3 separate regions of the Homo sapiens genome follow, and regions 1 and 3 are each linked to region 2. Evidence: fine-mapped expression QTL. A gene starts in region 2. Each other region holds a variant in brackets. All regions are shown on one strand. Distances are between the middles of the regions.

The links. PIP is the estimated chance that this variant, and not a neighbour inherited with it, causes the effect.
Region 1: its variant is the best candidate, but not a certain one, in a credible set for the expression of ARHGAP32 in tibial nerve (GTEx, PIP 0.89).
Region 3: its variant is the best candidate, but not a certain one, in a credible set for the expression of ARHGAP32 in whole blood (TOPMed, PIP 0.70).

Annotation. Positions count from the first base shown.
Region 1 is chr11:129,099,015-129,107,014 of GRCh38, reverse strand. The region is part of intron 5 of ARHGAP32 (Rho GTPase activating protein 32); the gene reads left to right. Among named protein-coding and RNA genes, the nearest start is that of ARHGAP32, 89 kb to the left of the region's middle. The variant T/G (reference allele first, on the strand shown) is at 3,147.
Region 2 is chr11:129,188,082-129,196,081 of GRCh38, reverse strand. ARHGAP32 (Rho GTPase activating protein 32) reads left to right here and starts at 3,757. Exons shown (of 23, transcript NM_001378024.1): 1 at 3,757-3,999. The coding sequence starts at 3,884.
Region 3 is chr11:129,265,885-129,273,884 of GRCh38, reverse strand. All of the region lies in intron 1 of LOC399975 (a long non-coding RNA gene), which reads left to right. It also overlaps a transcript of ARHGAP32 not described here. Among named protein-coding and RNA genes, the nearest start is that of ARHGAP32, 78 kb to the right of the region's middle. The variant C/T (reference allele first, on the strand shown) is at 3,124.

The DNA.
Region 1 (8,000 bases), 89 kb after region 2:
TGATTATAGTGTGTCTTGGTGTGGAACTCTTTGGATTTTGGATGTGCACATTTATGTCTTTCATCAAATTTGGAATGATTTCAGCCATTATTTTAAAAAATAATATTTGCCCCATTCTCTTTTTCATTCTTAGATTTCCATAATGCGAGAGTTGGTCCACTTGATGGGTCTCATAGGTTTTTTAAAGCACTGATTAATTTTTAAAATTATTTCTTCTTTCTGTTCATTACATTTTATCTACTTGTCTTATCTTTAAGGTGACTGATTCTTTCTTCTTCTTGATCAAATCTGTTGTTGAGCTATCTAGTGAATATTTATTTTCTTTTTCAACTTTTATATTAGATTCAGGGAGTACATGTACAAGTGTATTTATTACCTGGGTATATTGTGTGATGTTGAGGTTTAGGGTACAAGTAATCCCATCACCCACGTACTGAGAATAACACCCAAAAGTTAGTTTTTAAATCTTTTCCTCACTGCCACCCTCCCCTATCTAGTAGTCCCCAGTGTCTATTGTTACCATCTTTATTTCCGTAAGTACCTGATGTTCAGCTCCGACTTATGAGTGAGAACGTCTGGTATTTAGTTTTCTGCTCCTGTGTTAATTTGCTTAGGCTAATAACCACTGTCTGCATTTATATTGCTGCAAAGGACGTGGTTTTTTCTTTTTTATAGCTGTGTAGTATTCCATGGTATGTGTGTACCATATTTTCTTTATCTAGCTCACTTTTGATGGGCACCTAGGTTGATTCCATGTCTTTGCTATTGTGAATAGTGCTGTGATGAACAAGTGAGTGCATGCGTCTTTTTGGTAGAACAATTTGTTTTCTTTTGTATATATATCCAGTAATGGGATCGCTGGGTCAAATGGTAGTTCTGTTTTTAAAGTTCTTTTGAGATATCTCCAAACTGCTTTCGACAATGGCTGAAGTAATTTACATTCCCAACAACAGTATATAAGCAATTCCTTTTCTCTGCAGCCTCACCAACATCTGTTGTCTTTTGTCTAGTCAGATTTTAACTTTAGTTATTGTACCTTTTGGCCCCAGACTTTGTTTTTTTAATACTTTATAACTTCTTGCTAATATTCTCATATGTTCATACATCAGTTTCTTGATTTCCCTTATTTCTTTGTCCATGGTTTCTTTGAACTTTTTGAATGTGTTGAATACAGTTTATTTAGTGTCTAGTTAAGTCCCATATATAGACTTCTCAGGTACAGTTTTTGTTTTTTCCTCTGATGAATGTGTGCTTTCCTGTTTCTTTGTATAACTTGTGGCTTGTGTGGCATACTGTACATTTGAATATTATAGTGTAGTAACTCTGGAAACTGGGTTTTCGTCTATCCTTAAGAGTTTGATTTTTTTCATTGTTCATGGCTGCGGTTTGTTTGGTGATTTTTTTTTCCAAACTGTTTTAGTGAAGACTGTATTCCTTGTCATATGTATTTAGTAAAGTCTTTCTTCTTTTAGCTTGTGTTTAGGTAGTGTTTTGTCAGGGATTTTTTTGAATGCCAGGAGTGAAAAATAAAAATCAATGAAAAAGCCACTTTCTCCGGTCTTTACGTGTTGCTTCTGTACTGGAATACTCATTCAACACCTAGCGAAGCTGTTTACAGGTCTGCCTTCGTCTTCCCTTCATGTTACACTTATCCTAGAGGTCAGCTGGAGGTGAAAACCTAGGGACTTCTTAGCTTTTTGTGAGTATGTGTCCTACCCTGTGCGTGTGCATGGCTTTCAAAATACTTCCATATACCCAGGCACTTTTGAATGCTGTCATTTCCCAGAGACCTCTCTACTCAGCTTTCCCTCTTAGATTTTAGGTTGTTTACTTTATGTCTCAAATATAATTTTTTTGCTCCAGATAGTTGTAGAGTTTTTGTTTGCCTTACTGTATTTTTAAGCAATATTTAATGGTTTTCCTCCTTGAATGAGTTCCATATTAGGTGAAATGTAGGTAAGCACCTTGCATCAGTTCTTCAGGTAGCCTCTAGACAGGTTAGAAGAGACAAACAATAGTTTGTGAATAGGGTCTGTCTATTCCTTTCAGGCCCGGTGAGGGTTGGCATCATTAAGACTACTGCTGAGCCAGAGAGGTTTGGGGCAAGCACAAGTAAAAATGCCACAAAGCTTTCCTATTTTGAAGTGGCTTTTTCCTTGATTCAGTGATCTCTTGGTTATTCTAAACCCTTTACTGTTTTCTGGAGTACTGAGAAAGTTGACTCTGAGAGATTGTGCTTGTTTTTTGTGATTTTTGGAGGGATTGAAGCTTGTAGCCACCTACTTTACCATTTTATTGACACCATTTGGCCATCTTCTTTCTCTTTTAGTTTTTTCTTTTCTTCTTATCTCCTTGCTTTTTTTTTTCTGAAATGTTCTCTCTCCTTATGCCTTCCTCCCCATTTCTTCCTAGAGAGATTAATTTTATTTCTAGTCTTAATTTCTTTTAAGGTTATTGACATTTAAAAATTTTATCCTCTTCCTTTTGGTTTGGAAACCAGAAAATAGAAAATATGTATCATTTTTCTATTCTTTTTATGGCTGCAATTAAAATCATAACTCAAAAACCTAATTTAAAGGCTAAATTTTTTGGTATCTCTGATTCTGTCATAAAGTATCAGCATTTAGAATATTTTAACTGTGATCACTCTTTCCTCCATGTTAGTGTTGTTCAGGATGATAATTCTAACTTTTCATCTTTCATAATTAAATACTATTCTTATATAGCTAAATTTGTTTCGATTTATAAACTTATTTCCTGAATTTCTTGTTCAATATTTCTACCTTACTTCTCAGTTTATTCTTTTAGAATCCCTTTTCTTCTGAGGTACATATTTTAGAAATTTTTTTTGGTGAGGTTTTGTTGGTGGGAACTCTTCAGTTTTTGTTCATCAGAAAATGCTTTTTTTGGCTCTTATTTTTACATGATAGTTTAGGTATGAATAACATCTTGGTAAATCTCTTTTCTCAGAACTTAAAAGATATTCTTAAACCGTTCCATCTGTTACTGTTGAGATGTTAGGTGTTTTATAGTTACTTAGATATTTCCTATTTCTGGAACTGTTTATTCCTTCCTGCAGTTCTGGGTTTTTGTCTAGTACCATTTCTCTTTAGCCTGAAGAACTTGTTTTAGTTTTTTGGTTGGAC[T/G]AGTCTACTGGAGACAGATTCTTTCAGATTATTTTTATTTGTGAATATTTTTATGTTGCTTAATTTCTGATGGTTATTGGCATGAATTATATTAATAGTATTGACAACATTTCTTTCAGCACTTAAAAGATGTTTTCTTTTTGTCTTCTCCCCTCTCTTGTTTCTGATGAGAAGTCAGCTGTTATTTATACTTTTCCACCATGAGTCATGTATGTTTTTTTCTTTATAGATTGAAAGTTTTTTCTTTATCTTTCCTTTTCAAAATTATAATTATGATATGTTTAGTACTGATTTATTCATTTAGTTTGGGGTGCACTGAGTTTCTTGATTTTGAAGCTGATGTTTTCACATATTTTGGAAAGTTCTCATCTGGTATCTCCTGAGATATTCTGCTTCATTCTCTCTTATCTCCTTCTGGTACTCCAATTATATCTATGGTTATATGTGTTTGACATTCTCTTAGGGAGCTGAACTGTATTGTTATTTTTGTTTATTCTTTTTTTCTCTTAGTGATTCAGTGTGGATACTTTTCATTGACCTGTTTTCAAGTTCACTGCTCCTTTCATTTACTGTTGCCAGTTTGCTCTTAAAATCTGATACAAAAAATCATTTTTCGCATTTTCTATGGAACTTTTTTTCATAGTTTTAATCTCTGCTGGATTTCCCATATTTTCTTTTGACTGCTGTAAGTACCACACATATGTAGAATCAAGTATCTGTCTTTTTGTGTTTGGTATATTTAACATGAGCACAGTGTTCATCCCTGTTGTAGCATATGTCAGAATTTTTTCTTTTTAAAGGCTGAGGCTGAATAATATTTCATTTTGCCTGTTTGTATACATGTGTAAATGTGTGCACCACATTTTGTTTATCCAGTCATCTGTTGATGGGCATTGGGTTACTTCTGCTTTTTAGTTATGATGAATAATGCTTCTGTGAACATGGGTTTACAAATGTCTCTTTGAGACTCTGTTTTGTCTTTGGGGGGTGTATACCCAGAAGTGGAATTGCTAGGTCATATAGTAATTCTTCTAGGTCATATAATAATTCTCCTTTTAAGCTTTTTGAGGACCACCATTCTCTTTTCCACAGTGGCAGTACGAATACCACCAACAATGTACAAGGGTTTTAGTCACTCTAATTTGAAACCAGCACTTGATGTTTTCTGTTTTTGGATAATAGGTGTCCTTATGTATGTGAAGTGGTATCTCATTGTAGTTTAGATTTGCATTTGCTAATGATTAGTGATTTTGAACATCTTTTTGTGTGCTTACTGGTCATTTGTATATCTTCTTAGGAGAAATGTCTATTCTCTAGTACTTTGCCCATTTTTAAATTGTTTTTGTTTTTGTTGTTGTTAGGTGATAGAAGTTCCCTCATTTTGAACCTGTGGTTCTCACTGCATGTGACATAGGTGTCTTGAAGACAGCATACCAATGGGTCTTGGTTCTTTATCCAGTTTGCCACTGTGTGTCTTTTAATTGGGGTATTTAGCCCATTTACATTCAAGGTTAGTAGTGATATGTGTGGATTTGATCCTGTCATCATGATGTTAGCTGGTTATTTTGCAGACTTGTTTATGTGGTTGCTTTATAGTATCATTGGTCTGCTTATTTCAGTGTGTTTCTGTAGCAGCTGGTAACAGTTTTTCTTTTCCATATTTAGTGCTTCCTTCAGGAGCTCTTGTAAGGCAGGTCTGGTGGTAACTAATTCCCTCAGCATTTGTTTGTCTGAAAAGGATCTTATTTCTCCTTTGCTTATGAAGCTTAGTTTCACCAGATATGAAATTCTGTCTTGGAATTTTTTTAAGAGTGTTGAATATTGACTCTCAATATCTTCTGGTTTGTAGGGTTTCTGCTGAGAGGTCTGTGGTTAGTCTGATGGGCTTCCCTTTGTTGGTGACCTGACCTTTCTTTCTAGCTGCCTTTCACATTTTTTCTTTCATTTCGACCTTGGAGAATCTGACAATTATGTGTCTTGTGGATGATCTTCTTGTGAAGTATCTTACTTGAATTCTCTACATTTCCTGAATTTGAATGTTGGCTTCTCTAGTTAGGTTGGGGAAGTTCTCATGGATGATATCCTGAAATACGTTTTCCAATTTGGTTCCATTCTCTCCACCTCTTTAAGGGCCACCAGGGGGTTGTAGATTTGGTCTCTTTACACAATCCCATATTTCTTGGAGGTTTTATTTGTTCATTTTCATTCTTTTTTCTCTATTCTTGTCTGTCTGTCTTATTTCAGAATGCCTGTCTTCAAGCTTTGAGATTCTTTCCTATGCTTGGTCTGTTCTGCTGTTAATACTTGTGATTGCATTATAAACTTCTTGTAGTGTGTTTTTCAGCTCTATCAGGTTGGTTACATTATTTTCTATACTGGCTATTTTGTCTGTCAGCTCCTGTATTGTTTTATCATGCTTTTTAGCTTCCTTGGATTGGGTTTTAGTGTACTCCTGTAGCCCAGTGATCTTCATTCCTATGCATATTCTGAATTCTATTTCCATTTCAGGCCAGTTCAGGACCCTTACTGAAGAGAGGATACATTTGTTTGGAGAATAGAAGGCACTCTGGCTTTTTGAGTTTTCAGGGTTCTTGTGCTGATTCTTTCTCATGTTTGTGGGCTTATGTACAGTCTTTTAGGTTGCTGGCCTTTGGATGTTTTTTTTCCCCCTTTTATCCTATTTGATGACCTTTAGGGTTTGATTGTGTTATGAAGGGGATTCAGCTGATTGGCTTCATTTCTGGAAATTTTTGGGGGGACCAGCGCTCTGCTCCCAACTGTATTACATCCAGACTTTGTTCTCTGTCTCCTTGAGGTTAGGAATCCACTGTGTTGGTGGGGACCAAAGTGCTCCTGGACTGCTGGTCACTACACTCCAATGGGTGGTGACAGTCAAAGCATTTCATAGTGTGGTGATAGCAGGGTCCATCCTTGTAACAGCAGCTGCAGCAGAGTGCTAGTGGGTGCCAGGGTGCTTGGCTCCCTATGGGCATTCACCACAGTGGCAGGGGCAATGCAGCTGGGTGGTGGGTGGAGGCCCTCTGTTGGTTACTGTGCACACAGTTGTGCTGGAGGTGGTGTTGGCTTGGGAGCTGGTGGGCGCAGGTCTAGGTGCCTTCTCTGTGCCACATAAGCAGAAGTGGTCACTCAGGGTGGGAGAGGATTCGCTGTTCTCTGTGCAGTGTTAGTATAAGGGCAGGGTGCAGGCAGGGTTGGGGTTGGCTGGCTCTGCCCACCAAGGCTCCGTCTACAGTGGTGGTCGGCAGGTGGAGGTAGGGTGGATTGCACTCTTGTTCACTGGTGGAGAAAGGAAAGCGAAACCTGCCCATACTGACATGTGCCAGCAAAGTGATGTGTGGAGTTGCCATGGCCTCAGGGGAAGCTGACATATGGGGAGGGAGTCTGGGCTGATGCATGGTCATAGATGCCACCCCTCTGCAGCTCTCCACAGGTCAGGCATGGTCCACCATTGCAGAAGCTGTGATATAGCTCCCAGGACATGTGAGGCTGCCCTGCAAGCATGTGTGGCCAGGCTGGGTCCTTGGGAGAGGCCAGCACACCAAGGGATGGTCAGATTGAACTGGCCCCATCTGATGGGCAAGACCATCTTGCAGAGATCAGGTCTAGCAGTTCCCCTTGAAGTAAAGCCACCTATGGTTGCAAGTTGAGCTTATGGGCATGACCACTCCTAAATGTGCTCTGCTATGGATGCTCCTGCATCAAACCTTCTGGGCTCCACATCAACTGGATTGCTGCCCCTACCACTTCTCTAAGAAGCTCTCCCTGCCAATTCAAGTGTCCATGGTGGTCAAAGGGGGGTCTCTGCCTGCCAGGGTTTCAGAGGCCTGTAGCGAGTGCAGGTTGCTCCTTGCCAGTTCAATTCACCTCTTCCCCGGGAGCTGTTGGGATCCAGGAACGAGTCCTGGTGCAGTGCACAGTAGCCCCATGCAGGGTTCCCAGCTTTCTCCCCCTTCAGCCTAGCTTCTGTGTCTTCCTTGTGTACACTCTGGGTGCCTTCCCTCTGAAGATCTGTTAGAAGCACGCCAGTCATCTTGGTCTCTCAGTGGGAGCTGTTTCACCTGGCTGCATCTAGTCAGCCACCTTGTTCTCCCCCACTGCTTATAATTGTATCTTCTTTGTGTATTGAACCTTCTATTATCATATACTATTCTTTTTTGTTTCTAAACTTTTTGGTTTAGTGTCTGTTTTATTTATTTTTAGTATAGTCACCTCCACTCTCTTTTGGTTTCAATTTGCATGGAATATCTTTTTCCATCCTTCCACTTTCAATCTATTTGTGTATTTGGGTCTAAAGTGTATCTCCTGTAACCACCATATATAGTAATGCATCACTTAACAGGGTTATTTTCAGAGGGATATATTATTAGGTGATTTTGTAGTTGTGAATATCTCTAAAACATACTTAGAATAGGTATAGCCTACCATACACCCAAGCTATCTGGTGTAGCCTATTGCTTCTAGGCTACAAACTGGTTCAGAATGTTAATCTGCTGAATACTATAGGCAGTTGTAACACAATGGTAAGCATTTGTGTCTCTAAACATGGAAGAGGTACAGTAAGAATGTGGTTTTATAATCTTATGGGCCCACTGTGATATATGCAGTTTGTCATTGACCAAAATGTTGTTATGGTGGCACATCACTGTAATTGAATTATGTTACTTTGTTATTCTGCCAATCCCTGTCTTTGATTGTACTGTTTATTTCATTCACATTAAAAGTAATTACTGATAAGGAGGGACTTCTCTCATTTTTCTATATGTTTTCTTTATATCTTATAGCTTTTTTCCCTATATTCCTGCATTAATGCTTTTTAAATGTGTTTAGTTGATT
Region 2 (8,000 bases):
CTCAGGTTCCCTACCTCTTGGAGGTAGAAGATGAGAACCAGCTAGTTCGAAATTACTGCTGGTGACTCCTGTGGTTTCAGTCAAAGACTTCAGCTCCATAAAAGCTTGTTGGGAAAGTGAAGGCTGATCAGGGTTTAAACAAATCAGGAAGAAAAGGAGTTAAAACCACCTTGTGGTCTTCAGCAGTATCTAGTCTCTCTCACACACTGGTAGCCAGAGTGATGGACTCGGCTGTGTTCCATCCCTGCCCCCGCTGTTAACCATCACCTGTTGATTCCGCTGGATTTTCATTTACTACTGGAGAAGGGAACAGAAAACAGAAACACATGTAGGTTTTGAATTTAAAAACTTTTTTTCCTTTTTTTTTGAGACGGAGGTTCGCTCTTGTCTTCCAGGCTGGAGCGCAATGGCGTGATCTCGGCTCACAGCAACCTCCAGCCGAGGCGGGTGGATCACTTGAGGTCAGGAGTTTGTGACCACCCTGGCCAACATGGTGAAACCTCTTCTCTACTAAAAATAAAAAATTAGGCGGGTGTGGTGGCGGGTGCCTGTAATCCCAGCTACTCGGGAAGCTGAGGCAGGAAAAACATTTTTAAAAAACTTGTGATGGCAGAGTCAAAACAGAACAAGCCTCGGAAGATGTGCACATTTAACTGTCCTTCAGTATTCTGTGTAAAAATACCACTCACAGTTCACGTTTTCACTTTTGAAAGGCTCGAAGTGAGGGAAATCAACCATCATAATGAAAGAACAAAAGAATGATTAAAAGAAAAGGTGAATAGGATTCATGAAAACGCTTTGAGGCCGGGCACAGTAGCTCATACCTGTAATCCCAGCACTTTGGGAGGCAGAGGCAGGCAGATCACTTGAGATCAGGAGTTCGAGACCAGCCTGGCCAACATGGTGAAACCCCATCTCTACTAAAAATACAACAACAACAACAAAAATTAGCAGGTGTCGTGGCACACACTTATAATCCCAGCTGCTTGGGAGGCTGAGGCAGGAGGATTGCCTGAACTGGGAGGTGGAGGTTGCAGTGAGTCGAGATCGTGCCACTGCACTCCAGCCTAGGTGACAGAACAAGACCCTGTTTCAACAAACAAACAAAACAAAACAAAACAACCCCCCCCCCCACAAAAAAACAACACTTTGAAGGAGTTAGAGTTGTTTAGAAAAAAAAGAACTAGATTCTTAATGAAATAATATTTAAAAATCCAATTCTTTACTGAAGGTCATGAAAGATTCTATTTAAAATTAGTTAATATTTTGGTAAGGATTATATGTGCATGACATAGTGAAAAACTATCTTTCTTTCTTCTTTTTTTTTTGAGACGGAGTTTCACTCTTGTTGCCCAGGCTGGAGTGCAATGGCGTGATCTCGGCTCACTGCAACAATCTCCACCTCCCGGGTTCAAGCGTGTCTTTCTTTTATTCCTCTTCTCCAGCTGTCTGTTTTCCTCCGTGGAGACAACTACTGGTACTAGTACTGATCCTCTTCTTCCATAGATAGTCTGCATTTGTTTCTCCTAACTCCTCATTGAAAACACAGATGGCAGCATAGCATACTGCACATACTGCCCTATACTTTTACCCCTTTCTTCTTTGCCTTAACAGTATTCCTTAGGCTTTGTTCCGTATTGTGACCTGTAGGGCTGCCTTGTTTTCTCATATACTCACTGTGTAGCATTCCATTCTATGGGTATTCTGTAATTTGCCTAGTTTTCTATTCCTCAGGAAGTTAGGTTGTTTTTGCTATCCTATTTTGCTACTATAATGTCTACCAGAATGAATGTTCCTGTTTGCCTCTTACTTCTACTTGTGAAAGTGAGATAATTTCCTAAAAGAGAAATTGCTGGGCCAAAAAGATGTGCATTTTGAATTTTGGTAGATTTTGCTAAATTGCCCTGAACACAGGTTGTACCAGTTTAAACTCCCACTGACAGGCATGTTTCTTTTCCCATGTCCTCTTTCAGTTTGTTAAAACCTTTTAAAAGCTTTGCCTATGTGATAGATTTTTTAAAAGTCATCTTATTATGTATTGTTTTACATTTCTGTTATCAGTGAAGTTACTTTTAACATCTTTTAAGTTTCTTTTATGTTTATCTCTGAGTATTATATTTTTGCTCTTTGCCTATTTATCTTTTGAGCTCTTGGGTCTTAGAAGTTTTTAAGAACTTTTTATATATTAAATAAATTAACCCTTTGTGATATGTTTCAAATATTTTTTTCTCAACTTGTTTGCATTTTGACTTTGCTTATAATGTTGTTCTGTTGTTTTTGGTTTAAAAAATTTTTTTTGAAAAGTTTTTAAAATTTATATATGTATTATATGTATTATATAATATATATTATATATAATATATAATATATAATATATATTATATATTATATAATATATATTATATATTATATATAATATATATTGTATATGTATTATATAACATATATTATATATATTATATAACATATATTATATATTATATATAACATATATTATATAATATATATATATTATATATAATATATATATATTATATATAATATATATATTATATGCTCTAGGGACCTGCATATATATATATTTTTTTTTTTTTTTTTTTGAGACAGGGTCTTGCTGTGTTGCCCAGGCTGGAGTGCAGTGGCGTGATTATGGCTCACAACAGCCTTGAACTCCCAGGCTCAGGCGATCCTCCCACCTCAGCCTGTTGAGTAGCTGGGACTACAGGGTGCACCACCACACTTGGCTGTTTCCCGCCCCCCCCCCCCCCCCCCCATAAAGATGAGGTCTCGCTAAGTTGCCCAGGTTGGTCTTGAACTCTTGAGCTCAAGTGATGCATCCACCTCAGCCTCTCAAAGTGTTGGGATTACAGGCGTGAGCCACTGTGCTTGGCTCTTTATTTTTCAAATATGAAAATTCAAGAAGACTTCAGTAGATGTCTTCTTAATTTTTGATTAAATCAGATACAGTGGAAAGTCAGGGCTTTGCAGTTTGTTGCTGCTTGGTAAAAGACAAATAGCCATGAATATCCAGCAGGTCAGTAGTTTCTGTCAACATGGCTCTTTTCTAAGTAACAGTTGTGTTGTTGACAGTCATAGATGCTATACCTTTCACTCATTTCCCAGCAAGTCATTTTATTGCCACCATGACTGTTTGCAGTTTAAATGTGTAAAACTTTGCATGCTTTTATTTGATGTGATTGTCAGCATCTTTGAACTTGGGACACTTAAACTTTTTTCTTTCAAGGACTGTGGACAAGCCCAGCTTTTATGTCTCACTCTGGATACTTGAGCAGAGATGCATATGGCAGTCCTTACTGAGAGGAAGGAAAGATGGGTGTAATATTGGAAGGCATGAACCTAGGCAGGTCCCTAGAGCATACTTATCTTCTCTACTTATTGTGAGCCTCCTTAACTGTGAGATCTATAACTGTGCTTCTCATGTGCTTGGCCAGTGGATGGTGTTATTCTTTCTAGTTTTCTATTTACCTTTCTGGAGTCCGAGATCAAAAAAGGATACAAATAAAGCCTGCATTTTGAAAATACCTATTTTTAACTTATTAAGTGGAAACTTTGAGAAGAGTCATTATTACAGAATAATTAGTAAAAAATCACCTTCATTTAGATTCTGCTTTTGGTTATGTAGGTCACGCAGCCTAAGGCAGTGGGAGGGTCTAGGTGTCACCAGTATGGCAGTCAGACGCAGTGACTGTGCTGCCTGTGATTTCCTGTCTGTACCCTGACTGTAATTAAACCAGCACCAGTACCTGTCACTAGGGCACCAGACACACATCTGAGTATACATGAGTAGAGCTGAACAACCTGAATGTTGGTGCTTTTTATTCCATGCCTGGAGGTTTAGTTTTTTTTGTTTTTTAAGTACAAGATGGAGACTGAAAGTGAGAGTAGCACTTTAGGGGATGACAGTGTCTTCTGGTTGGAGTCTGAAGTTATAATCCAGGTGACTGACTGTGAAGAGGAAGAAAGGGAAGAGAAGTTCAGGTGATTATGGAATTCACAGTTCCTTTGTCCTGTCCACTCCCTACCCCCACCCGCACCCCTTTTTCTTCTCTGCATTTCGGTCTTTTTTCCAATAAGACTTTCTGTTTTCTGGGGGAAGGTTTGGAGCTCAAGGGAGCAGGTTTTGAGTTGTATATAGCACTCCTCATTCCACAACTTGCCCTGAACTTGTAAAATGCATTTTAAAGGACTTGTTAGAACGCCAGGAGGAGAAGGTGTTAGACAGGTTTTGTAGTAGCCTTTCAGGAATTTCAAGTAGACACTCATAATGAACTACTACCCCTTCCTGTATCTGATTTGTATCAAATAGATTTGATCTGAATTTGTATCTAATAGATTTTTCTTCCTCTTTTTCTTGGAATGTGGTGTGTGTGTGTGTGTGTGTGTGTGTGTGCGTGCCTGCCTGCCTGCCTGCTTTGTTTGCCTTATGCATGGGTATGAAAAATTCCGATTAAGTACAGATTGGTTATTTTGTGGCTTTGATCTTTACCCTTGTCTCTGATCTTGTATCTCATGCCCCCTTTCCCCCAAATCTCTCTTGGTTTTTGAATCTCTGGTAGTATTAGTAACTTCATAATTGAAGTTTTTAGAGGATGCCTCCTGATGAAGCAGCTCTCAGTTTAGTGTCTGTGGTGAAGAAAGATGTCTTAACCAGTTTGTGAAAACAGAACCAATGTTTCATTCATTCTGTTGTACTGTTGCAAATTTTAGGGGGCTTTATTCTGGCTTTTCTTTTTCTTTCAGAGTTAGCGATGTAATACCTTTGAGTATCACAAAAATCTCTTGATGAAGTTTGAAGTTTGTTGCTGCATATTATCACTGCCACTCACATGTGCAATTAAACATCTTTTATAAGTTTACCTATGAGAACTTGGATAGGTGAATATACTGTTTTCATCAGATACTGTCTTTGTGTTTAATGCTGAAAAAGAGTTTCTCCTTTTCTCGAGTCAAAGGATTTCTTTATCCACAAATTTTATTTTTTAAAGTCTAGGTTAAATGATGGAAGGGATTGAATATTGGGAACTCTTGATAACCCTCACTAAATTTTTTACTCTGGGGTTCAAATAAATGAGAAGTATATTTAAAATTTTAAAAGAATAATTTTCAGAGTATAAAAATGAATTATTAGCATATGATTATTTTTTGTCTGAACTTTTGTCTCATTTTCCCATAATTTTATCTAGCCTTTCAAATTTGAGTAAGTCCCTTCCCTTCCAAGGTATGCTAATTGTTAGTCACATGTTCTGCTTTTTAATATGGTTTGTGTCTTGCTAACAATGAGTAGGACTGAAGTATTTGTTTTGCTTGTAATAAAACTTTTTGACCTGGTATTCAAATTATGGAAGTTATTTGGGTATTTGTCAAAGGAAGAAACAACTTGGAACTTATTTCATTGTTGTTTTTATAACAGATTTGGTACTGTAATCCTAGATTTACTTGTAAGGCAGTGGGCGTCTCTCTGGGATTTTCTTTTGACAGTTAAAAGCAAATTTGTGTAAGGATGAGCTCTTCTTTTCCTTGGGAGTATGTGACAGCATTTTCACTCTGAGAAACTGAGCTAGTGATGTGTTGTTTAAGGAAACTATGATACCATAGGGCATTTCTCTTCTGTTTATATTTCCTATCTGAATAGCACCATGGCTCTCCTAAATCAATTATATCTTTGTGATTTGATCTGATTTTATTTACAAATGTAACAAAGAGGTCTGGGCAAGGCCCAATTTCATGTAGTGTCTCTCACGCATTCAGCAGTGAGGCATGAGGAAATGTGGCAGCAGAGTGGTTTCACAACCTCGTGGTGGTGTTCCTGCCGAGATGCCCTACAGGAAAATGGAGGCATGGGTGTGGAAGGGGAAGGGTCGGATAGGAGTTGCAGCTGTAACCTTGGGAGGACCAAATAGTAGACTCAGTGTGGTATGACAGTTGTTTTTGTAAAATCAATGTAATAATTTTAAAAATGTCTTACTGTGTTTTTATAAAAATCTCTGCAAATACATGTGACATCAAGCTGTCGTATTGGTTACATTTCCATTCACATACACACACATAGCTGAGATGAGGGCAAAAGATTGTGCACTTTTCTTTTTCCCTGAATAGCTTGTAAACTACATTTTAAATGCACTCTTAAAAGCCTGCTCTTGTGTAACTTAAGGCACCATGGCTAAGAGAGTAAAGTCATACCACACCTAGAATGTAGGCTTCTGGTGCTTCCAGGTGCCATCTGCTTTAGGAGGAAGTAGTCTCAGAGACAAGTTAATGTTTGTCCAGTAGCTTTTGAAATAGCATTTATTTTTGGACTCAGTTGGAGGAAAGGATCCTTTTTATTAACACTCTTTCACTATGGGAAGTTGCCGGTCTCCTTCATGGTGGTAGTTTAAATTTGTCTGCCATTGACTCACAGATCTTTCATTTTCTGATTTCTTATTTGTAGTCGGTATTATTACCTACCTTGTCACTGTGGTAAAATAGTTATTAGACTAGAATATTTAGTCCTTAGAATAAAATAGTTCCTAGAGATGATTAGAAAAATCCATCCCTGGATAAGAAGGAGGAATATAAGGCAGAAAAGGAAAAACATAAATGTTTTAATTCTATCAAGAAAGAAAAACTTTACTTAGAAATTGTTATATGTAATGTACTAGGCCATATATATGCTTTATACAGTGTATCAGTTAACTGCTTATCACTCCTATAAAGCAGGTATCATTTTTCCTATTTCCTCGGTGAGGAATTTATGGCTCAGAGAGTCACACAGCCCACATTTGTCATGGTGGAGCAAAATTTTGCAAGTGGTAGCACAAAAATTTGAACCCAGATGTAACTGACTTTGAAAGTGAAGACTTTAATGAAAGATTTTTGGGGCTATCTTCTGCTAAATGCTATTTTCTGCTAAGTGATAACTTATAAGAGGCTACAGCTGATATCTCAAGTTTTGAAATTCCTTTTTTTTGAGGAGGTTATGAGCATCAATGACATATAGATTATGTGACCATCATAAAAATGAAGTAATGAACACAATAATGTGACTTTTAAAAAATGTGACCTCTAGGACACCTAGGAATCATGAAAGGTTCTAGTTCTTTGGCATTTGAAGGTAGAAATGTTTATCATATGATTTTGTTTAGACTTCCCTAATACCACGTTATGGGCTGATAGACAGCCTGGCAAATATGACATATAATTTGAAGCAGCTACAGAGATGATATAGTGCTTAATTGAACCATATTTTTGATCACGATCTGTAGATGCCCAGATCGCTGATCTTCACGTATATCTCCATTATTAAGGCAATTCATTTTAAGTGACGAGAAAGTTCTGACTTTAGTTAAACTGGATGATTTGGTGAACATATTTTAATTGGGGGGGACAATGCCTTTATTGATTTATAGCATTATAGAACTAATGATACTTCATGCACTTGACTCGTTGGTTGGTTGCATTATTCATCCTCTACCTCAGGGGTTCCCAACCCCTGGACCGTGGACCAGTTATCTTATTTGGAAGGATGCCACAAGTTAGAAGCTATTGTGGCAGTCTAAGTAGGTAGTAAGGGTCTTGACTGTGGTATTGTACATCTTCTAGGCTCAAAACAGCTTTGAACTCCCAGGCCCAGGCGATCAGATCAGATCTAGATGATTTCTTTTAATGGCTCATTTCCCCTGGAAGCCCATAAAACAATTTCAAGATTTTCTGTTTTTATTACTCTGCCTGTTCTTTTATCTTCTGCAGAAATTCTTGATTTCAGGCTTCCCAGCCAGTTTTAATGATCCTGGAAGTACAGAGAGGTAGTATTAACAATTAACTGAGGCTGGGCATGGTGGCTCACACCTGTAATCCCAGCACTTTGGGAGGCTGAGGCAGGCAGATCACCTGAGGTCAGGAGTTTGAGATCAGCCTGGCCAACATGGTGAAACCCTGTCTCTACTAAAAATACAAAAATTAGCTGGGTGTGGTGGCGGGTTCCTGTAATCCCAGCTATT
Region 3 (8,000 bases), 78 kb before region 2:
CCAATTTGTCTCTGTTTGAAAAGATAAGCATCATACTCTAGGAGAGAATCTTCTAGAAAATTCTATCAGTTTGCCCTAAAAATAGTAAAATCCTTATTTGGATTTCAGCCTTGTGATGTGAAGCAAGCCATTTGACTCCACTGCTTTTATTCCCTGTGTGTAGCATGGAAACAGTAATTCCTGTTCCTCCTTTCATTGGAGAAATATAGGTGGTTGAAGGACTCTTAAGATGAGTAGCATCTTCAGTAGCTGTGCAGAATATATCATGTGAAGTTCAGTAATTACCCAGGATATCAAACACAGACCAAAAAAGTGAAGCAACTTTTAACAGGAAAATGAGTTTTGAACCTGGAGTCAAGAGGACCTGGATGTTTGTCTTGGCTCTGTTGTAAACAGCTTGTGACTTTGGACAAGTAATTTCTGTCTCCAAAGGTCCAGTTTCCATTGACCTACCTAAGGAGAATCTGACAGACCTTCCTTCTTGTTTTATATTCAGTGGCCCTCCAGATTAAGTAGGAATAGCAATCCTGACACAGTAGGATAAGGGAAACCACATCTCTTTGTATCTGTGAACTGACAAGTATCCACTGAGTACATCTGTGTGTCTCCTGCCATGCTTCAAGCAGTGGAAGATAGATAGGTAAGAAGGTGTCATTGAGTCTTTGCCCTCAGGAGGTGTTCATTTCATGGGGAGACAAACTATTTTATGAAAAGGAATATTATAAGTAAGCAAGGAGATAGTGGAATGATCTGGCAGTTTGAGGACTTGTGATGTACTATTGGAGAGGATACTTTGTAGCCTTGTGACCTTGAACATGTAAAATGGGCTTTGTAGACTCCCTCCAACTCTGAAATTTGGTCATTCTGTCTTTGATGGAGAAGCAGCAGCTCTGAATCAACCTGTTGGTAGACAACCCAAGTAAGAACTGCTCAATTAAAGCCAGATTTTTACACACATTCTGCGTAATTGATTTAGTAGATGGAAGGAAAGGTTTACTTTAATTTACTAGAAATGCAATCAACGGATAACCCTTCTGAAAAATAAAGCGTGCGAGAAGTGACAAGAGACCAAAGTGAGCTTGTTCCTGAGGCAGTACATTTGTGCCTGGATCTCATTTCTTCTTGCCTACAGGTCTTCTATTCTAGCAGTTTTCTTTCCTAAGATATCATTCTCTCTTTACTGAATCCTCTTTCAGTTAGCATCCATGCCTTTTGTTACTTGCAGCAGTGATAGCTAGTTGTCTACCCAATGCCATTCTCTGTGGCTTCCTTTTAGTATATAGGATCCTCAGGGTTTATCTGGGCACATGTTGGCCCAGCTAGAAACTGCATTTCCTAGCTTCTCTTTTATAGTTGGATGTGGACTAAATTCTGGCTAAATGGATGTGGACATAAGTGGTATGTGTGATTTCTGGGTTGTAGCCTTAGAAAGGAAGCTAATCGTTTTCTATTTTCTCTTTATCCCCTTTTGCAGATGAGAGTGTAGGATGTTAATGCACTGATGGGGCATATTATTCAACCTGCAAAGGTGAGGGCAATACCTTAGCGGGGGATGGATGAATAAGATGGATTTTTAGATGATCTTGTGGAGCAGAACTGCCTCCTAGCCTTGTACTTCTCATTTATCTTTGGGTGGTTAGGTGAGAGAGGAATAAAGTTTTATCTCTTGAGCTACTGATGCCTTAAATGAATAAATCACACCTTTTAAACCACCTTTACCTTGGGATCCCCTTCATTTACATTTATTGTCCTTTTTTTGTTTCCTTTTGCAGCAGAAATTTCAAGAGTTGTTTATATTTGCTGTACCTTCTTCTTCACCAGTGATTCTTTAGCCTGATCATTTGAGCTCATCATATGAATTACTCTTCCTGCCAGTGACTTCTTCCTCTCTCTCCCCCAAGTCTTTACCATTTCAGTAAGTGGCATCATCAGCCACCACTTGTGCAGGCCAGAACCCCTGGAGTCATCCTTATCCTTGATTTCTTTTTTTAATTGCACTCCAATGAAATTGTTTTTAATCAAGACTGCAGTGACCTGGATCTTGCCAAAGCTAGTGGTCAGTTCAATGTTTGTATCTTATTTGACCTCTCTCACCAGCATTTCACAGTGGCCAACTTTACTAGTTTTGACCTCTTAGTTGTTCATTCTCATTTTCTATATGCTTTTGCCAGTTTATCTCTACTTTCCCACTCCTTGAAAATTTGGAATGTCCCTCAGGTGATTTCATCCAATTTTTGGTTTCAAATACCATTTATATGCCGATGAGGCTCAAATTCTTATTTCTAGTACTGACTTTTTTCCCCCTTGCGCTCTAGACTCTTGTAACTCCATGCCTCTCCTTGGATGTCTAATGGATACCTCAAAGGCAGCATGAACAAAGGAGGGCTATGAATTACTCTTCCTGTTGGTGACTTCTTCCTCTACCTCCCCCAAGTCTTTACCATCTCAGTAAGTGGCATCATCATCCACCACTTGCGCAGGCCAGAACCCCGGATTCTTCCTCCTCCTTGATTTCTTTTTTTCCTCCTCATCTCATGTTAAGTCTGGTCACCTCCACCTTTATAATATAAACCGAACCTGACTACATCTCACTTTTTTCACTGGCAAAAACCTAGGCTAGGCTAGGCTAGTAGGCTTTGTCGTCTGGCAAACTGCCAGCAGACTTCCCTGCTTCTACTCCTGTCCTTGTCCTTCCCCTCATTCTTACCATACACGGGAGCCAAAATAATGTTAAACGTTAATCAGATCGTATCATTCTGCTTACTGGCTTTCCAATATACTTAATGCTAAAACAAAAACTTAACATTTTACCGTGGAAATAAACCCTTCATTTTGGTCGCTTATGAGGCTCCATATCAGTGGTTCTTAACCAGGGAAGATTTTCCCCTCAGGTGATGTCTGGAGACATTCTTGGTTGTCACAAATTGGGGTAGGTTGCCACTGGCATCTAGTGGGTAGAGGCCAAAGTGGCTGCTAAACATCCAACATCCAGTAATGCACAGGACAACTCCCAGCAGCAAAAAATTATGTGGTCCAAAATGTTTGTAATGTGTGATATGGCTCCTGGCTGCTTCTCTGCTCTCATCTTCTGCTCTCTCTTCTTTTCTTCTTTGTTCACTGAGC[C/T]ACAGTCTCAGTGATGTTCCTTTTTTTTTTTAAGTAGACTATTTTTACGTTCACAGCAAAACCGAGCTAAAGGTGCAGAAGTTTCCTGTATACCCCTTGTCTTTACACATATGCAGCTTCCCCCATTATCAGCATCCCACATCAGAGTCGCATATTTGTTACAGTTGATGAGCCTACATTGAAACATCATTATCACCCGAAGTCCATAGGTTACATTAGGATTCACTCATTTTTCCCACTTGTTCTGAGAGGAGAAAAAAAAAAAAGACTGACTCTTGGTGTTGTACCTTCTATGGATTTGGACAAATTAATAATGACATGTATCCACATCATAGTATCTTATAGAGTAGTTTGACTCTGCTGAAAATCATCTGTGATTTGGCTATTCATCCCTCCCTCTCCCCAGCCCCTGTCAACCACCAGCCTTTTTACTGTTTCCATACTTTTGCCTTTTCCAGAATGTCATATAGTTAGAATCATAGAGTATGTAGCCTCTTCAGACTAGCTTCTTTCACTTAGGATAAACATTTAAGTTTCTTCCCTGTCTTTTCGTGGCTTGATTGTTCATTTCTTTTTTATTGCTGAGTAATATTCCATTGTCTGGATATACTACAGTTTATTTATTCATTCACCTGCTGAAGGACATCCTAGTTGCTCCTAAGTTTTGGCAGCTCTGGATAAAGTTGCTACAAGCATCTGGGTGTGGTTTTTTTTTTTTAATAAGTAAGTTTTCATCTTGTGTAAATACCTAAGCATGCGATTGCGGGATCATATGTTAAGAATAAGTTTAGTTTTGCAAGAAACTGCAACACTGTCTTCCCAAGTGGCTGTGCCATTTTACAACCTCACCAATAGTGAATGAGAGTTCCTGTTGTCCCACATCCTTGTCCACATTTGGTGTTGTCAGTGTTTTAAATTTTGGCCATACTTATGGGTGTGTGGTATATGACATTGTTTCTTCCCTTTGAATAAAAGCACGTTCTGTCTTAGGGATTTGTGTTTGCTGTTCCTTTTACTTAAAATGACTTATTTTTAATTTTTTTTAGAGACAGGGTTTTACTCTGTCACCCAGGATGGAGTGATCATAGCTCGTTGTAACCTCGAACTCCTGGGCTCAGGTGATCCTCCTACGTCAGCCTTCCAAGGAGCTAAGACTATAGGTGCGTGCCACTGTGCCGGGCTAATTTTTGTAATTTTTGTAGAGACGAAGTCTCTCTATGTTGTCCAGGCTGGTGTCAAACTCTTGGGTTCAAAGGATCCACCTGCCTCAGCCTCTCAAAGTGTTGGGATTATAGGCGTGAGTTATGGCGCCTGGCCATGTACTTCTTTTAAGTCTCGTCATGGCTGCCTTCGTCCTCTCCCAGAGAGACCATCATGATTACCTGTATATGTAGCACCCCCACCTCTTTCTTTTATATCATCCCATTTTGTCTTCTTCATATTCATTTATTATTTGCTTATTTGTTTAATTAATTAATTAATTTATTTTTCGAGAGAGGGCCTCATTTTGTCACCCAGGCTGGAGTGCAGTGGTGCGATCTCAGCTCACTGAAGCCTCGACTTACTGGGCTCAAGCAGTCCTCCCACCTTAGCCCCCAAGTAGCTGGAATTACAGGTGTGCACCACCACGTCTGGCTAATTTTTGTATTTTTAAATAGAGATGGGGTTTCACCGTGTTGCCCAGGCTGGTCTCGAACTCCTGGACTCAAGTGATTCAACTGCATTGGCCTTCCAAAGCTCTGGGATTATAGGCATGAGCCACTGTGCCCGGCCATGTGTTTAATTTATAACCCCCCTCTCTCTGAGCTACTCAAGGGGTGAGGGCTTTGTCTAGGCTCCTGCTGTATCTCTAGCATTCCTACTTAATAAACATTTGTTGATGATAGAGAGGTGCTAGAGTCACTTTTAGAAATGGAGCAGGGTTTTCAGCAATAATGAGAAGTCACAGGATCCAGCTGGTAGCAGTAGAGAAAGTTGTGATTTGCTGGAGGGTGAAAAATCCATTGAGACAAGGCTGCTTTGGTCTTCTATTTAGTAACTAATTTTGAAGAATGGAGGAATTCACCTTTTTTTTTTTTTTTTTTTTTTTTTTTTTTTGGTGAGGAGGCAAATAACGAAAGAGCAAGATGACAGGAACTTTTAAAGAAAGAAAGGTTACTTCAGGGTGTAACTTTGGTTTTGCCTGTGTCTCATACCACTAGTCTCTGCATATAGAGCTATATCTTCATATTGCCGCTATATAGGCCCCCAGGGAATATGCCATCTGCCTTTCTCTAATATCAGAATTCCTTCTACATTATCCTTGGGAGGTACTTACCCTCTGCTTCTTTATTTTTACTGTCTGAAAACTCAGTTATTCACATGACCGATTAACTTTTTAAAAAGAGTTCTTATTGTTAGGAAATGTATCTCATTCTATGAAATTGGAACACTACTCCATGCATTTCTGACTCCACACAGATCTGCTTTATTTTTCACATGATAGCTCTTTAGCTGTCTGTGAAAAATGGCTAGTTCTTTTATCTTCCCACCAGTCTTTTCTCTTTCTAGGCTCAATGGATTCATTTTCTTCAACTATTCCTCATAGGACAAGGTTTTTAGATTATTTTTCAGGCCCATCCCTAACATTTTTGGGACTCGGGGTAGGGATACAAATTGCAGATCTGCTATGGTTTGGATATTTGACCCCTCCAAACCTAATGTTGAAATTTGATCCTCAGCATTGAAGTTGGGGCCTAATAGGAGGTTTTTGGGTCATGAGAGTGGAGCCTTCCTGTCTACATTAATGCCTTCCGTGGGTGGGGGGTGAGTGAGCGAGCTGTCCCTCCGTTAGTTCCCCACAGAGAGCTGGTTGTGGAAAAGAGCCTGGTACCTCCCTCCACTTGCTTCCTCTCTCACCATGTGATCTCTGCACATGCTGGCTCCCCTTTGCCTTCTGCCATGAGTAGAAGCAGCCTGAAGCTTTCACCAGATGCCTAACCTTCCAGCTGGCAGAATTGTGCACCAAATAAACCTTCTTTATAAATTACCCAATTTCAGGTGTTCCTTTATGGCAGTACTAAACGGACTAAGACGAGGTTCATATGTCTATGCAAGTTATGAATCAAGTTAACTGATAAATAGAAAATGTTCCATTGCTGATTTTATCAAATAAAACTCCATAGTAACCTAGATCAGAGTCAAACAGAGAATTCAGATTCCTCTGAGTTTGTTTTTTTTGTTTTGTTTTTGAGACGGGGTCTCGAAACATATGTCTATACAAATTATCAGTCAAGTTAACTGATAAATAGAAAATGTTCCATTTGCTGACTTTATCAAATAAAACTTCATAATAACCTAGATCAGAGTCAGAGAATTCAGATTCCTCTGAGTTTGTTTTTTTGTTTTGTTTTTGAGACAGAGTCTTGCTTTGTTGCCCAGGCTGGAGCGGAGTGCAGTGGCATGATCTTGGCTTACTGAAACCTCCGCCTCCCAGGTTCAAGTGATTTTCCTGCCTCAACCTCCTGAGTAGCTGAGGGACCACAGGTATGTGCCATCATGCCCCGTTAATTTTTACATTTTTGTTAGAGAGACGGGGTTTCACCATGTTGGCCAGGTTGGTCTCGAACTCCTGATCTCAAGTCATCTACCCTCCTTGGCCTCCCAACTCTGAGTTTGTTTTTAGAACAAGCTGAGGTGCAGAGAGTCAGCCTCTGACCTGAGGTCTTCTTCTCTTCCCCAGGCTCCTTGAACTATGAAGTTTGCATGTGCGTGTCTGTGGAACTCCAGCCTGTACACCCTCCAAACAGCAGCTCTTTGGCCATTCTTTGGCCTAGGGTTGTAAATACTGTTGGTTGGGTCATCTGTCCTTAGGAGAACTGACTCAGGGGAGAGGCCTGAGCAGACCCTGGAAGAGGTGGGAGATTTTGGGGTCCCGGTCAAGATGAGGGCTGGGGCACGTAGGCTGCAGATGGGCACATCCTTTAGGCCCTTAGCATAGCTGGCCCCATGGTCAGGGGTATGGTTAGAGGAAGGCCAGTGCAAGGCCCTCTAAAGCTTGAGGCCCAGGATGGGTGCCATTGTTTAGGTCTAAGCAGTACTGTTCTATGCAAGTAAAACTCTGGTTTTGGTCCTATTGCTAGAGTTGGTTATTGTGGAAAATGGTACAATCTCTCTTATGGTGCCTCAAATTAGATGTGATGTTTTAGTTAGAGCTTCCTAACCAGTGTGCCAGCAGTTCTCTGAATGTGTTACAGATGGGCCAGAAATACTGATTCCCTTAGTTCCCAGGATTGTCAGGGGTAGAGTGGCAAGAGCTTCTAGGCTGATCACTTTTCCAGCAGGATGACCTATTTACCCCAGGGTGCCTGTACCAGTGCTACTATGCTACCAGTATCAGGTGCTTTATGGGCAGGTTTAGGAGCATATATATATATATTTTAATGAACATTATCACTTGGTCCACCTGAAAGAGTAAGAGGTGTCACAGTAGGTTTTGTGCCCTTCTTATTAGTAGGGAAATAGATCCAGGTTAAGTCACTTATCTAGTGACATTTTCTTACTCAAGTAGGCCAGTTGAAACTAGAACTCCGTTTTTATGACTTATTTTGGTATTTCTCTCTACTAACCCAAATTGTGTTCCGTGTACCTTTTTTTGGGATAACTTGTCACTCTTATTCATCTAGGGCTTGTAGGAAATTACATTTTTTAGAGCTTTTCTCTCCCAAATTTTGTTACATTGTTTTCCTTTTATTGTTATTTTTTAATCTAAATATTCAGTTTTATGTTTAATCCCTACTAAACAGAATTATTTTTATGAGATTCAACCAATTGATGGAGCATCTTGAAACTGGATTTTATGTGTTACTCATTTTTTATAGCTCTCTTCTTTAGATTAG